Linked DNA regions of Homo sapiens. The protein of the gene in region 1 interacts with the protein of each later gene in a pairwise test. Each region holds a gene or a part of one and is shown in the gene's direction. Other genes may lie near its edges.

Region 1 (3,858 bases):
CTGCTCTTAAATTTACATTTGCCTCTAAAAAGGATTTCTTATATGTCAACATCTCTCTGTTTAAACATATTCTTGTGTAAAACCACTACGTGACCTGAATAATGGCCATAGGGCTCATCTCTAAGCCAACTGGCTTATTTATTTAATGCATCTCAGTGGTTAACAGGGTTGAAATTTTTTGAAAACTGCAATCAATGATCAAAGAATGATCTAGGTAAACATCGATTCCTTGTGGCAACATTTTAATATTTTCAAAGACAAGGTACAACTGGTAGAAAAAAAATACCCTCATGCATCTTTTTCTTCTAATTGTGGTAAAATATATGACATAACATTGGCCATTTTAGCCATTTTTCCTTTTATTTTTAGTTGACACATAATTGTACTTATTTATAGGATACAAAGTGATATTTCAATACATGCATATAATGTGTAATGATCAAACCAGGGTAATTAGCATATCCGTCACCTCAAACATTTATCATTTGTATTGGGAACATTCAAAATCCTCTCTTCTAGCCTTTTAAAAGTATACAATAAATTGTAGTTAACCATATTCACCTTACAGTGCTACAACACCAGAAGTCATTCCTCCTATCTATAATTTTGCATCCATTAGCCAATCTCTCTCCATCCTCCCCTCTCCCTAATCATTACCAGCCTCTAATATTAATATCTGCAACACTACTCTCTACTTCCATGTGCTCAACTTTTTTAGCTCCCATATATAAATAGGAACATGTGGTAATCTTTCTGTGCCTGACATTTCACATAACATAATGTCCTCCAGGCTATCCATGTTGTTGCAAAGGACAGAATTTCATTATTTTTATGGGTGAATAGTATTCCATTGTGTGTGTGTGTGTATATATATATATATATATTCCATTGTGTGTTATGTATGTATAGTATTCCATTGTGTGCATATATATGTATATATGTGTGTACATATATATATACATAATATATATTCTTCTGCACATGGAAATCCAGTTTCTCCAGCATGATTTATTGAAGAGGGTATCCTTTCCCCAGTGTATGTTCTTGGTGCTTTTATAAAAAATCAGGTGACCTCAGATCAGACCCAACTACATCATACCTTCTTTCGAAATGTGCAAGAAACCTACTAGAAATTCTTATTGTTAGAGTTTCAGATTTATGTCCTGGTTTATACTGCCACATTCATTCTTGGAGGTGAGTACATTTCGATCTTGGTCCGGCTGCGCAGAGAGTCAAAGCAGGAAAATCACAGATTCTTCCCAGCAGTCTACAGCCTACACAGCGGCATTTGGTGCGATGGGATGGAACATGCTGTATCTCTATTCCATGTGGGGGTAAAGTGGGTGGCCTGAAATTTCCTGTGTCTGCCTGCATGATGCAAAGCTCACAGTTCAGAAGCTTAAGGACACACTTCATATCATCCCATCTGTTCTGGTTCAGTGCATAAGAATCTAAGTCTCTGAGGAAGGTAGCATAGTGTGCAGTTCACTGGACCAAAAGCTTTGGCTGCACCTCTTCTGGAAAGCCTGGCCATGGGGCTCTTCATGATCATTGCAATTCTGCTGTTCCAGAAACCCACAGGTAAACCAAACCAGAAGCTCACTCAAATCAACAGTGGGATGGAGCATTTTCAGGAGCCAAAGGGAACTTCATAATCCACACTAAAGGGAAATAGAGCCCCCAAAGATGGCTAAAGTTTATCCAACATCATCAGAAATTTCCTCTTTCTGGAGCCTTATTCCATGTTACTATCCTTAAAGAGGAGTACTCACTGAGCTAAAAAGAGGTCATAATTTCTTCTGGGAAAGATGTGTTGTTATAGAAAGGAATGATGCCAATATCTAGGGATACCTTTATGTCTTTGGATATGGTTTTTACTCTGATGCTCAGCTATATTTCCTTTTACTCAAATATATATATGTGTGTGTGTGTGTGTGTGTGTGTGTGTGTGCATGAATAGAGGAAGAAGCAAATTTTGGAGTTAGGTTTAAGAAACATGCCTTCAATATCTACTAGTTTGTCAACTTTAAGTAGTGAAGACTCTAGGAGCCTCAGTTTCCTCATCTATGGAGATAATGACACCTGGTTAACAGGGGTTTTATTAAATGATATAACCTATGTGAAGCTTGGCACATACTGAGAACTCAAAAATTAGAGTTTCCTTTCCTCTTTCAAAACCAGATTTCTTACATGTGTCCCTTATTATAAGAATAGTAATGGCCTATTCCTGACCCTCTACATTCCTAAGACCCAATAGACTACTACCTTACTGGATAACATGAAAGTCATTCTTGACCCTGATAGTGGGTTTGAACTCAGGAGAACAGTTTGATTCAGACATAAACACATAGTAACAATACATTGTTCTCTGGGCATCAGAGGAGGTGCAGTAGAAGGTAGTGCTCTGGGAGCATTCAGGATGCAGGCAGATTTGCTGAGGTTCCTATGTAGAGCATAGTTCCATAGCCTAGAATCAAGGGTTCAGCTCCTTTATTTTCTCAGATAAGATCTTATGTTCTTGGCAGAGTCTATCAGATGTTAAGGGAGGCCTAAAACCTCACAGGACCTAAATATAAGTGATCCAGTTAAATACAAACACTGAGGTTGACCTTGTCGGAAAATCCTCTTCAGAATATATGAGGGTCTGCCTTGTGGATACCCCATACCCCTAATTCCTACAAGCCTCCTCTGTCTTCCCCAAAACCAACGTGCCTTCAGTCTCAAACACTGATATTGTTCTATTGCTCCTTTCTGTGTATAGTAACCGAACAACTTAAGAAGTGCTGGAATAACTATGTACAAGGACATTGCAGGAAAATCTGCAGAGTAAATGAAGTGCCTGAGGCACTATGTGAAAATGGGAGATACTGTTGCCTCAATATCAAGGAACTGGAAGCATGTAAAAAAATTACAAAGCCACCTCGTCCAAAGCCAGCAACACTTGCACTGACTCTTCAAGACTATGTTACAATAATAGAAAATTTCCCAAGCCTGAAGACACAGTCTACATAAATCAAATACAATTTCGTTTTCACTTGCTTCTCAACCTAGTCTAATAAACTAAGGTGATGAGATATACATCTTCTTCCTTTTGGTTTCTTGATCCTTAAAATGACCTTCGAGCATATTCTAATAAAGTGCATTGCCAGTTTTCTGTCTCATTTTGTTCTTTAACCAGGGGTTGAACACTCATTATATACTAGGTAATGAATTGATAAGAACTCAGAACCTCTCCTTGAAAAGGGGATATGACAAGTACACTAAAAAAAAAAAGTCCTATAGTGTGGAAGTCTGGAATAAGAAACTCAGAAACACTGACATGTAATTTAGGAGAGGGAAAGGTGAAGCAAATATTCAGGGGAAATTCATGAGTAAGTTTAGGAATAAAGCAGTGTCTTGTAGTAAATAAGTAAATAGTAAAGCAGTAAATAAGTAGGATTTCCATGGATGAGGTTTGGTAGGGAAGGCAATTTGAGTGAACAGAATGGGAGGAAATTGGAAAAGACAGAACATTTCAAGACACTATACATGCACTTTGTTTGGATGAAGAACAGAGCACTCAAAGTTGAACTATGGGGGAAGTCTGATTTCCTAAGCTCCTGTGTACCAGCAGTGAACTGGGAAGACGGAGATAAATAAGATTCCACTGTTGTGGAGCTCAACAGTGGAGCTCAACGCTTCCTCTATGAAGTGGAGAAGACCTAAGTAAATAACTCCAACACAAAAGTTTTTAGGTTTTTGCTTTGTTGTTGTTGTTGTTGTTGATGTGTTCATCTTTTTTGTTATTGGGGCCCTGTGGAGTTTAGGGGAAATGTAAAAGATCTAGGAATTGGTCCAAATTGTAGTGCTTTCATTGTC
Region 2 (3,780 bases), on another chromosome or scaffold:
TGTTTTAGAAAAGAAAATTTGCCTTAGGAGTAGTGGGACTAGGTACAGTGAATGTGATAGAGGCTTTTGAAGGATTAAGACTTGATATGATTGATGGGCAGATGTGAGCTTTTCAGTCTCTTGAACAGAGCCTACTGCTAAGTATTTAGTCAACCATTTGAAATTTGTTTTTAGTTACAAAAATTTTTAAAGTTCATTTTTAAAAGGCAGTAATAGAGATATAGGTAGAAGGAGAAAGATTTCTTTACCATTGTCCTCACTGTCATTCCCCTTACTGCTGATGCCTCACTTTCACAGGTTAACTCCTGTTTTAGGGTATTTCCTTCCAGATGTCATTATGTAACTCTTTTTAAAAATATTGTTAATTTTTTGCCTTTCAAAGTCATTATTGTTCTTGAAACATGCTTCTGCACCAATTGGAAACTCTAAAAATAAAAGCACATTTTGAGTCAGCCACTTTTAACCATTTGAAGATGTCTCCAGTTTTTGTTATTCTGTGTACTATCATTTTCAATTTTCTTTAAAGTATGACATATTTTAGACATTCAGAAAAGTACGGTACCCCCTCTGGAGATAACTACTTTTCTATAGTTGATGTTTATCATTCTTATGAGTATCTTTATACTTTTACTATGTCCCTAAACAATATAGTATTATTTTGAATGTTTTTGAGCTCTATAAATATACTGTGTTCATCCTTTTGAAACTTACCTTTTTTTGCACTATGCCTGGAACATAATATGTGCTTAGTAATTTATGTTAAATATTAGAGGTTAAATATTAAGTTAGAATTTTAGTAAGAATTTTTATACTAAAATGCCACATTTGCTTTTTTTTTTTTTTGAGATGGAGTCTCACTCTGTCGCCCAGGCTGGAGTGCAGTGGCATGATCTTGGCTCACTGCAAGCTCTGCCTCGTGTGTTCACGCAATTCTCCTGCCTTGGCCTCCCAAGTAGCTGAGACTACAGGCACCCACCACCACGCCTGGCTAATTTTTTTTTTTTTTTTTTTTTTTGTATTTTTAGTAGAAACAGGGTTTCACTGTGCTAGCCAAGATGGTCTCAATCACCTGACCTCGTGATCCACCCACTTCGGCATCCCAAAGTGCTGGGATTACAGGCATGAGCCACCGTGCCTGGCCTTTGCTTCTTTTTCTTTGCATCTTTTCCTTTCTATCTTTGCTATCACAGTTTGAGCAGTATTCTCAATAAATTGAGAAAACAATGATCTTTTCTCTGATCTCATTGATAAGCTTTCAATCAAAGCAGTTCAAAGAGGAAGATTTGTTAGAGAAGACAAGTAGGGCTAGCAGTAGATGTCTATACTAAGATGGTTTAATGTTTTCTCCCAGTGATTATTATGTACCTTATATCAATTAAAATTAGACAGTTAGAAATTAGACATATGTAGTCTTTCAGTGACCCGGTGTTTATACAGCCAAAAAAGTGACAGAGTGAGATCCTAAAAAAAAACAACAAAATACAAACAAACAAAAAAAACTTACTTTCAATACCTGATATCTCCCTTTATTTTAGCTCACTGCTTGTCATTCGATTGTCCAAGACAGAATTTGATAGTCATTTTTAATTTGTTGTTGTCCATCATACCTCCTCCTCAAAGTAATTTTAAATTCTGATGACCCTGCCTTTGAAATGTCCTTTTGTTTTCCTTCCTTTCTCTCTCCACTGCCCTTGCTCTGATTGTCGTATAAACTTCCTGTGTTATAACTAGTTTCCTTGCCTCCTGTCCCATTCTCAATAGTGGTGTCTATGTTGTCTTTATAATACATATGTAATGATGTCAGTTCCTGGATCACAAAACAGAGTCTGCGTTTCTTAAGGGAGTTTTCATAATCTAACCTTAACCTGTCTTTTTAGCTTCATGTTTTATCAGTCACCCATGGGTAAGTTTAGTGTTAGGAATAAAGTTAAAGGTTTTTGAGGGATATATGTGGTATTTTCAACCATAGAGATAACTGATATTGCCCAGGGATAATATTCTAATTTAAAAGACATTTTACCTCTGTGAAACCTTTCCAGCTCCCCTAGAGAAAAAAAAGGTAGCATGTAAAAACCTGTTATAATATACATACTCAGTTACATATATGATAAAACATCAGTCATATCAGTCTCGGAACATAGTGCCTGTAGTGAAACTGAAGTTAGCAAATTGTGTTAATGTCCCAATATAACTATTTTGTATTTTTTGGAAGCCATTAAAAACTTCCCATGGTGGAATAAAGTACATGATGTACGTCACTTTACACAGTACTTTAAGCATATAAGGTGACTGATTTTTTTCTTTGGTGGTAGTGTGCTTTTAAAAGCTTGTTTTTATATTGACAGGCATTAGTGTAGATTCCAACTTTCAGTATGGATGGACTCCCCTTATGTATGCTGCTAGTGTTGCCAATGCAGAGCTGGTTCGGGTCCTTTTGGACAGAGGTGCTAATGCAAGCTTTGAGAAGGGTAAGATGTTTTAGATAACTTAAATGATTATGCTTACTGTGATTCCTTGGTTTCCAAGTAGCTATTATATAAAGTGCAAAAAACTAAAGCCATTTGAAGTAACCTTTCTATTCATTATACTATGTAAATAATATACAAAATCAAATTAGAAACCATACATATTCTGAAAAACTCTCTTTCCAAAAACATAAATTCCAGTTATAGTATCTTTATAACTGGTTGTTATTATATATCTTTAAGGTTTTGGTTGTTTTTAAAGGAAAAATTCTTGAAAGAAACATTAAAAAGTTTATAATTTAGTGGCAAATTACTGGAAAATCAGTCTGTGGAATTTTAAACTAAACTCCAAATTACATCACTTAAAGTTGTTTCAAAGATAGTTCATGAAATCCATCTTTGTCCTTGTTACTAAATAATTTCCATTCAGAAGTGCTTTGAGTGTAAGAAGAACAAGAGTATATGAGCAAATCCAGTTTAATTATTACATTGAATTCCTGATTACTTATTTTTAACATATTTTCAATAGACAATTAAATTTTCTTCATAATTTCAGGTATAGGTTTCATTTTAGAATTGATTTTTACATTTTATACCTACAATTTTATTCTTTTTTCTCATTTATATATTTTACATAAATTTCTGTCTTAGCAACAGTTTCATGTTTAATATTTTCTATTAGGTTTTTCTTTTTATTATATCATTTAAAAATATCACTTGGCCAGGCATGGTGGCTCATGCTTATAATCCTAGCAATAGCACTTTGGGAGTCTAAGGCAGGAGGATCACTTGAGCCCAGGAGTTCAAGATCAGCCTGGACAACATAGTGAGACTTTGTCTCTACTAACAATAAAAAAATATTAGCCAGGGGTGGTGGCACACACTTATAGTCTCAACTACTCAGAAGGCTGAGGCAGGAGGACTGCTTGAACCCAGGAGTTCGAGGTTGCAGTGAGTTATGATCATGCTACTGCACTCCAGCCTGGACAACAGAGTGAGACACTGTCTCAAAAAAAAATTACTCAATGAAAGCTATGCTTAGGAATGAGGTTTTCAAAAGTGTATAAAATATTCTGCTCAAAAAATTAATTAATAATTATTCTTTTTATACTTCCCCCTCCTTGTAATCAGAGGGATAGTTAGAGCTATAAAATATATTTTTCACAGAATGTACACATGAGTTTTTTATGTGTCCCACAATAACCCTGTTACATACAAAGGGCAGATACTAGGTTCTTATCTGTATGTTAAATCTAATGAGCTATTAAGATATCACAAGAGTTACAGTTTCTTAGTGGCAGGACTGGGACTAGAA
Region 3 (3,714 bases), on another chromosome or scaffold:
AGCCAATGGCAACTATGTAAGAATTGCCCCTGTCTGACAGCTACTGTAAGATGCCATCAATTGAAAGATGCATCTGAAGTTCAGAGATGTTAAAATGTGAAAAATGTGTGTCTTATAAACTCTGAAATATAGTACCGTTCATAGGAAAGGTCATACTTGCTGTATTAGGGTTCTCTAGAGGGACAAAACTAATGGAATATATATGTATGGGAATTTACTAAGTATTAACTCACACGATCACAAGGTCCCACAATAAGCCATGTGCAGGCTGAGGAGCAAGGAAAGCAGGTCCGAGTTCCAAAACTGAAGAACTTGGAGTCCGATATTCGACGACAGGAAGCATCCAGCACAGGAGAAAGATGTAGGCTGGGAGGCTAGGCCAGTCTCTCACATTTTTCTGCCGCGTATATTCTAGCCATGCTGGCGCTGATTAGATTGTGCCACCCCAGATTAAGAGTGGATCTGCCGCTCTGAGTCCACTGACTCAAATGTTAATCTCCTTTGGTAGCACCCTTACAGACATACCCAGGATCAATACTTTGTATCCTTCAGTCCAATCAAGTTGACACTCAGTATTAACCATCACACTTGCAGTCTTCTATCTTTGCTGGCCACAGCTGAGGGATAGCTTGTCCTGCTTGGTTTTGGAGCACAGCCTCTATCCCTGCCATTCTTGCCAAAAGAGCGTCCTGTTAACAGACCCACTAAGATTATACCGTGTACTCCTGGTTCTGTTGCAGAGTTTGTTTGTTTGTTTGTTTTTGTTGTTTGTTTGTTTGTTTTGAGATAGATTTTGGCTCTCGTTGCCCAGGCTGGACTACAATGGCGTGATCTCAGCTCACTGCAACCTCTGCCTCCCGGGTTCAAGCGATTCTTCTGCTTCAGCCTCCCAAGTAGCTGGGATTACAGGTGCCTGCCACCATGCCAGGCTAATTTTCTGTATTTTTAGTAGAGGCGGGGTTTCACCATGTTGGCCAGGCTGGTCTCGAACTCCTGACTGCAGGTGATTCACTCACCCGGGCCTCCCAAAGTGCAGGGATTACAGGCGTGAGCCACTGCACAAGGCCTGCGGCATTTTTTTTGAGTCAACCAGTCTACCTTCTACAACTTCTATATCACCTCTCCAGAGAGTAGGAATCCTTAGCTACTTTTCTCATACCATATTGATTCTCCACTTTTTTCAGACTGCTGTGGAATTCCTGAGAAAGAGCAACTGAGGGATAGCAACATGGATTTCACTGAGTAGGTGGCAATTGAGTTAAAGTTATTTTTTTAAAGATATAAGTTAATCAAATAAGAGCCTATGAAGGCCCAGCATGGTGGCTCATGCCTGTGATCCCAACACTTTGGGAGGCCAAGGTGGGCGGATCACTTGAGGTCTGGAATTCAAGACCTCGCTTAAGGCTGGAAGACCATGCTTAAGGCTGGAAGAGAATTGGCTTAATTCTTGATAAGTTAAAAATAATTCCAATTGGGCATATAAATAAGAATGCCTTCTTCAATATTACATTTGGTCGTGGTTGAGTCATGCCAGGGAGGGAGTGGGGAGTGGTGGTTCCTACAGTAGCCCCTGAACAGCATGAAAACATCCAGAATAGAATTCTGAGGAAATTCCCACTCAAGGAATGAAATACTCTAAATGAGAGAGCTGGTCATACAGTCTTATAAATATAAACAGGTTCAAGGAAATGTTGGGCACAATGTAATATGATTGCTAGATCATAATAGTTATGCTAATTTGCATATGTTTTGAGGTTAATTACGAGTCTCAAAACGCCTTTCTGAAACCATATCTTAAGAGACTCTTTATGTGGTAGGTAATTTTCTATTTGAAAAAAATCTTTTAGATATTCCTCAGGGTCTCATATATAGTCAAGTTCAAAAGGCTATTTAGTGATAGAATTTGGATTAGGTTCTAGTAATTTTGTGTTCTCCTAGTTTATGAAACTGCAATTTTGATTTTACAGATTGACTTTTTTTCATAGTCTACAAATTCATTATCAGTATTATCATGGGTTTCAAGCGTTAAAAGGACAAGGGCTGTACAAAAGAATTCTAAGTGTTACATGTTTTTTTTTAATAACCTTCAGTATATTTTTTAAAGGATTAAATTTACTTTCAAAGTAAAAATATATTAGAACCTCATTATCTTATACTAATCATTTAGAGAACTATTACAGACTGCTGACTAAAGATTCAGATAAGATGAAAAAGAGCATTATTCATTTTCAGATGTTTTTCCAATGAAGTTCTAAATGTTATTGATGATTATAAAGGAAGATTTATTAAGTTTGTAAAATATGCACATTTTGTTTTTTTTTTTAATTTGGTTTGATCAAATGCTTTTCATTACGATGGCTCTTACTAGCAGAAATATTTTTGGAAGGCAGGATTTAAATTAAGTAGTAGTAAAGTTGTATAATTAGAATTAAAATCTATAAAAATTTGTATGTCAAAATATAGTTTTATATTATAATAAACTAGTTAGGCAATAAGAGAGTAAATGGGCAAACTTGCCCCATTGTAGTGTTTATTGGAAATCTTGTCTTTAGTATGGATAATTTTTGTTACCGTATTATAAATTTCCAAAGCATTGATTGTTTTATAGATTATACCTAGTAGCTTGTAGCTTTAGTAATCCTCATTTCTGAAGGTTAGAAATAGGAACAAATAACTGTATTTATAGGAACCATAGAAATGAATAACTGTTGTTGGCTCTTGAATAACATGGGGGCTAGGGGCACCAACTACACAGTCAAAAATCCACGTGTAATTTTTGGACTCCCCAAAAACTTAACTACTAATAACCTGCTGTTAACTGGAAGACTTACTAATATCATGAACAGTCAATTAACATGTATTTTGTATGTTATATGTATTATATACTCTATTCTTACAACAAAGCATGCTAAAGAAAAGAAAATGTTACTAAGAAAATCATAAGGAAGAGAAAATATATTTACTGTTCATTAAGTGAAAGTAGATCTCATAAAGGTCTTCATCCTTGTCTTCACGTTGAGTAGGCTGAAGAGAAGGAGGAAGGAGGGGCCGATCTTGCTGTCTCAGGGGTGGTAGAGGCAGAAGAGTTGAAGCAGGTGGAAGGGGAGGCAGGCACACTTGGTGTAACTTTACAGAAACACATCTGAGATTTTTGCCTTTTGATTTCTCTAAAACTGTTTCTATTGGTACCAATTCTTCTTCCACAGCTTGCTTTAGTTTTAGTGTCCATATCATAGAAAGGTCCATGTCATAAAAGAAGTTGAAAGCAGTCTTGAATAATTGGAATTCTTCTGCCACATTGACTACTGCCAATTTGTTTTCTGGTACAGCTTCTTCTACATCTTCTTCCTTATCATGTGGCACTGGTTCAGAAGCACTCATCTCCATCAAGTCATTTTCTGTTCATTGTTCCATTGTAATGTCAGTTAGCTCTTGAATTACTCCAAGATCCTCATCTTGACATCTTTTATTACCGATTTTTTTTTTTTGCAATATCCACAGTTTCTTTCATGATTTCCTTGATTGGCTCTATTGTAAATCCTGTGAAGTCATGTGCAACATCTTGAAACAGTTTCCTCCAGCAGAACTTACTGTTTTGCACTTGATGGCTCTCAAGTCTTTTTCAATAAAATAGCAGCATCTTCAATGGTATATTCCTTCTAGACTTTCATGACGTTCTCTCTATTGGGATCTCTTCCATAGTGTTGAATAAAC
Region 4 (3,780 bases), on another chromosome or scaffold:
TCTTTTTTTAAAATTATTTTTTAATGCTTTTAAGTGGATGTACACCCCTAAGATAACAACAGATTGTACATTTTCCATAGTTTTGCCTGGCAGCACTCCTTACTCCAATTTATACATTTGTATTATCTGCTCTGACTGTAAATGCATTCAGGCTTTTAATCCACCAACATTTTAAGATCTTAAAAAATTGTTGTGCAGAAAATGAAGGGCCAGCATCAACTATCAACATTCATTCTTTAGCCATGCCTTTATTGGTGTGTCTGTGTTTATATGGTACCACCCTATATAATATTTGTAATGCCTACTTTGTTGAAATTGTTTTGGGAGAGAGGCAAAAGTCTCTTTAGTAAATATAAAAAATAAATAGGAAAGAATCTAGTACATTAAAATTTCTTTAAAATAGAGGAACTTAAAAAAATTATTGTAAGTGACATCAGGTACAAATTGAAGGGAGGCTCATTGTGTGTTCTCTACTACCATTTTGAAGGTTTGTTTTTGAACTAATAGTACTTTAAACTTCAAATATGGCTAGGGTTATCTTTTTTTTTAAATCTGTTTCTCTGTCCTCAAGCTTTTCTTTCCATGAGAAAAAATGACACAAAATAAGGGTCCATAAGGCTTTTGCTACTACTTAAATTTTAGTTTAGAGTCCATTACATGTTTCAGTTACAGATACTTGGTTTAGCACCAAAGATAGACTGTCTCTCCCCACCCTTCCCACCACCACCATCCCACTCATTCCCCTCACCCCCTGTGAGTGGAATGAGACCAACAGCCATTATAGCCTTAAAGAAATGACAAAGCATTTTCAAACTTGCGATGTCCATTGACAATGTTTTGGTGCATTGCAGTAGAACAGAGCTCTTATCCAGGCTCCAGTAAGCACTTTCACCTGCTGGTAGAAAAATGTCTCTTCTTTTAATATTTTACTGCTAATGGCATTGTCACATCACCAAAAATATATGTAGAAAAATGTTATATTTCCCTACCTGTGTACTTTATGCTATATTAAAAACATCTCGTGACTCTAAATTCAAAATGTATCCAGGTTTTCCAACAACTCTGATTAACATTTAGCAATTACTTTGGACTCATTCTCCAAACATATTATTAGTTCTCATGCAGTATTACATTCATTAATGTATATTTTCAGATATCAAAATCAGTAGCCTCTTCCACAATTTCATATCTTTAATTTCTCCTGTCTTAAAAGTAAGTTTTAATGAAATGATTTCTTCTATGCTATAGCCTAAAAAGTTATCCAGTAATGTTTAATTATATTTACTTATCTTAAATGTATTTAAAAATAGCTATTCACATCAAGCTTTTAAAAAGTTTTGATGATGTTTGTATAGAAAAAAAATGACTGAATGGTTTTAGAAAGTTTGCTCTATTACATAAAGTGATGTTGCCAGAGTCTGATTTGTTTCACAATTGCTCAGGATCACCATTCAGGAGGGACTTTAATTTTTTCTTAGAAACATAAAAGCAACCTTATTAGAAAATAGGTTAAAAGATTGCTACATTTGAAATGATCTTAAAAAATTTAGGCTTAAGTCCTCAGTAATGTACATTTCCTAGTTCATTAATGCAGAAATACTGCACATAGATTTTAATCTTGGAGTTAATAATAAAAGCAATTTTCACTAAAAATATAAAAACTGTAATGGTAGAATCATGATATTGCATTTAGCTCTCCCACAAAAAGTCACTTTATTACTTTCTTTTGACACTTATTTTCATTCTGGGATTAATTTTACTATATAAGGGCTTCTTAACTATTCTATTAAAATTTCTATTCAGAAGCAATAATATCTAAGAGTGAATAATAGTCATGTAAATCATTATTTCATATTAATGTAAAAGATTTTGTAAGTTCTTATGAATTCTGCTGACATGCACAATTGTGAAAAGGTTATCTCTCCATTCTACAGTGATATGCGCTGGAACAAAGGAACCATTCTAAAAGCATCAGTGGAGTACATCAAGTGGCTACAAAAAGAACAACAGAGAGCCCGAGAATTGGAACACAGACAGAAGAAATTAGAGCAGGCTAACAGGCGACTTCTACTTCGGATTCAGGTTTTTATAAGAATGTAGCCATGAGTCACATAGCTTACACATGACTCAGCTGTCATCAGTTTTCTTCATTGGTCTCATTTATTTTTTCTCTTATTAACAATTATTTTTCCTTTTGAAGGATAATTTTACTGCTTTTTAGAAGTTCGTGAATTGGGTTGTTTCAATTAGGATTTGACTAGAAATCCAGGATCAAGATGGCTGAATATGTATATATGTATATATGTATATACACATATATGTGTATATATGTGTGTATGTGTGCATGTATATATATATACACATATATAATGACAACAAATTACAAAATGCATAAAATATAACTCATTTCATAAATGCACACATTATTATCCTAATCAAATAATAATACTAAGTAAAACATTTGTTTCTCTACATTATATTGGACATTAAATTCTCCCCTCCTTCTTTCATTTCTTTCCAACATTGCTATGGATTTCATTGCCTCAAGGCATGTTGTGACAGTGTATATTAAGTCACTTCTCATCTGTTCATATAATCCAAAATATCAAAATATGGGCTTTTATAACTCTCAAGATTTTTTAAAAATGTGAGTATGCTTAGCACCAGGTAAAACATTTACTGTTTCCATGAAAAGGTCCTGCATTTACAGTGAGAAATTAATCAGGAAGAATAAATAGATGACTTTCTGCTATCTCCAAATGGCTATATTGTAGTCTGAGCCACTATGGAACCATCATCAGTCATAACCTTTGTAGAACAATGAGACCAAACTTAAAAAAAAGTCTGAGTAATTTTCTCAGAGTTATTTTTCATGCATCAGAAATGTATCAATTTCATTATTTGCAAAGATTATTCATAATTTGTATTGTATTACTCTTCATTTTAAATGCTTGTTAATATTTTGATTCTATGTCTGGCTTATTCTCTAGTGTTAAATCCAATTTCAAAGACATTATTTAATGATTTTCGTTTGAAATTACAGGAACTAGAAATTCAGGCTCGTACTCATGGTCTGCCAACCCTGGCTTCACTTGGCACGGTTGATTTAGGTGCTCATGTCACCAAACAGCAGAGCCATCCTGAGCAGAATTCAGTAGACTATTGCCAACAACTGACTGTGTCTCAGGGGCCAAGCCCTGAGCTCTGTGATCAAGCTATAGCCTTTTCTGATCCTTTGTCATACTTCACAGATTTATCATTTAGTGCTGCATTGAAAGAGGAACAAAGATTGGATGGCATGCTATTGGATGACACAATCTCTCCATTTGGAACAGATCCTCTGCTATCTGCCACTTCCCCTGCAGTTTCCAAAGAAAGCAGTAGGAGAAGTAGCTTTAGCTCAGATGATGGTGATGAATTATAAGAAATAAACAGACCCAATTCATCAACTGGAAAGCAATTCTATGCTGGTGCTATGCAATTATGCTCTGTGTTTCATATGTTGCTTTGGCTTATTTTTTTTCTTAAAGGAATGTGTTGTTCATGAAAAACTGATAGAAGCAACAGAAGAATTCGCAGGAAGAAAAATCATAGTGTTAATGAATTATTGAGGGCGAAAAAAAGGTGTTTTCTTCTTTGACTACGGAGTCCAAATCCACTTAAATTCTGTTTTCCTGAAAAGAGGTACAGCATAAGAAATAGCTCTTTATTGATGTTTTAAAAGCAGCAACTTGGTGGTGTACTACTGGAACTAATGACTGCAAAGTGTTAAACGACTGA

What was found. The genes of interacting proteins can lie anywhere in the genome.
Region 2: the proteins of DEFB127 (region 1) and ASZ1 interact in binary tests that used the Homo sapiens proteins (3 or more experiments, as listed by UniProt).
Region 3: the proteins of DEFB127 (region 1) and FAM174A interact in binary tests that used the Homo sapiens proteins (3 or more experiments, as listed by UniProt).
Region 4: the proteins of DEFB127 (region 1) and TFEC interact in binary tests that used the Homo sapiens proteins (3 or more experiments, as listed by UniProt).

The regions. Positions count from the first base shown.
Region 1 is NC_000020.11:156,013-159,870, forward strand, and holds DEFB127 (beta-defensin 127 preproprotein), read left to right. Parts: upstream 1-1,441; 5' UTR 1,442-1,532; coding exon 1,533-1,581; intron 1,582-2,761; coding exon 2,762-3,012; 3' UTR 3,013-3,151; downstream 3,152-3,858. UniProt on the Homo sapiens protein: Has antibacterial activity.
Region 2 is NC_000007.14:117,420,925-117,424,704, reverse strand, and holds part of ASZ1 (ankyrin repeat, SAM and basic leucine zipper domain-containing protein 1), read left to right. Parts: intron 1-2,345; coding exon 2,346-2,468; intron 2,469-3,780. UniProt on the Homo sapiens protein: Plays a central role during spermatogenesis by repressing transposable elements and preventing their mobilization, which is essential for the germline integrity.
Region 3 is NC_000005.10:100,580,163-100,583,876, forward strand, and holds part of FAM174A (membrane protein FAM174A precursor), read left to right. Parts: intron 1-1,184; coding exon of another isoform or gene 1,185-1,203; exon of another isoform or gene 1,204-1,242; intron 1,243-3,714.
Region 4 is NC_000007.14:115,940,195-115,943,974, reverse strand, and holds part of TFEC (transcription factor EC), read left to right. Parts: intron 1-1,934; coding exon 1,935-2,082; coding exon of another isoform or gene 2,083-2,100; exon of another isoform or gene 2,101-3,043; coding exon 3,044-3,424; 3' UTR 3,425-3,780. UniProt on the Homo sapiens protein: Transcriptional regulator that acts as a repressor or an activator. Acts as a transcriptional repressor on minimal promoter containing element F (that includes an E-box sequence). Binds to element F in an E-box sequence-specific manner.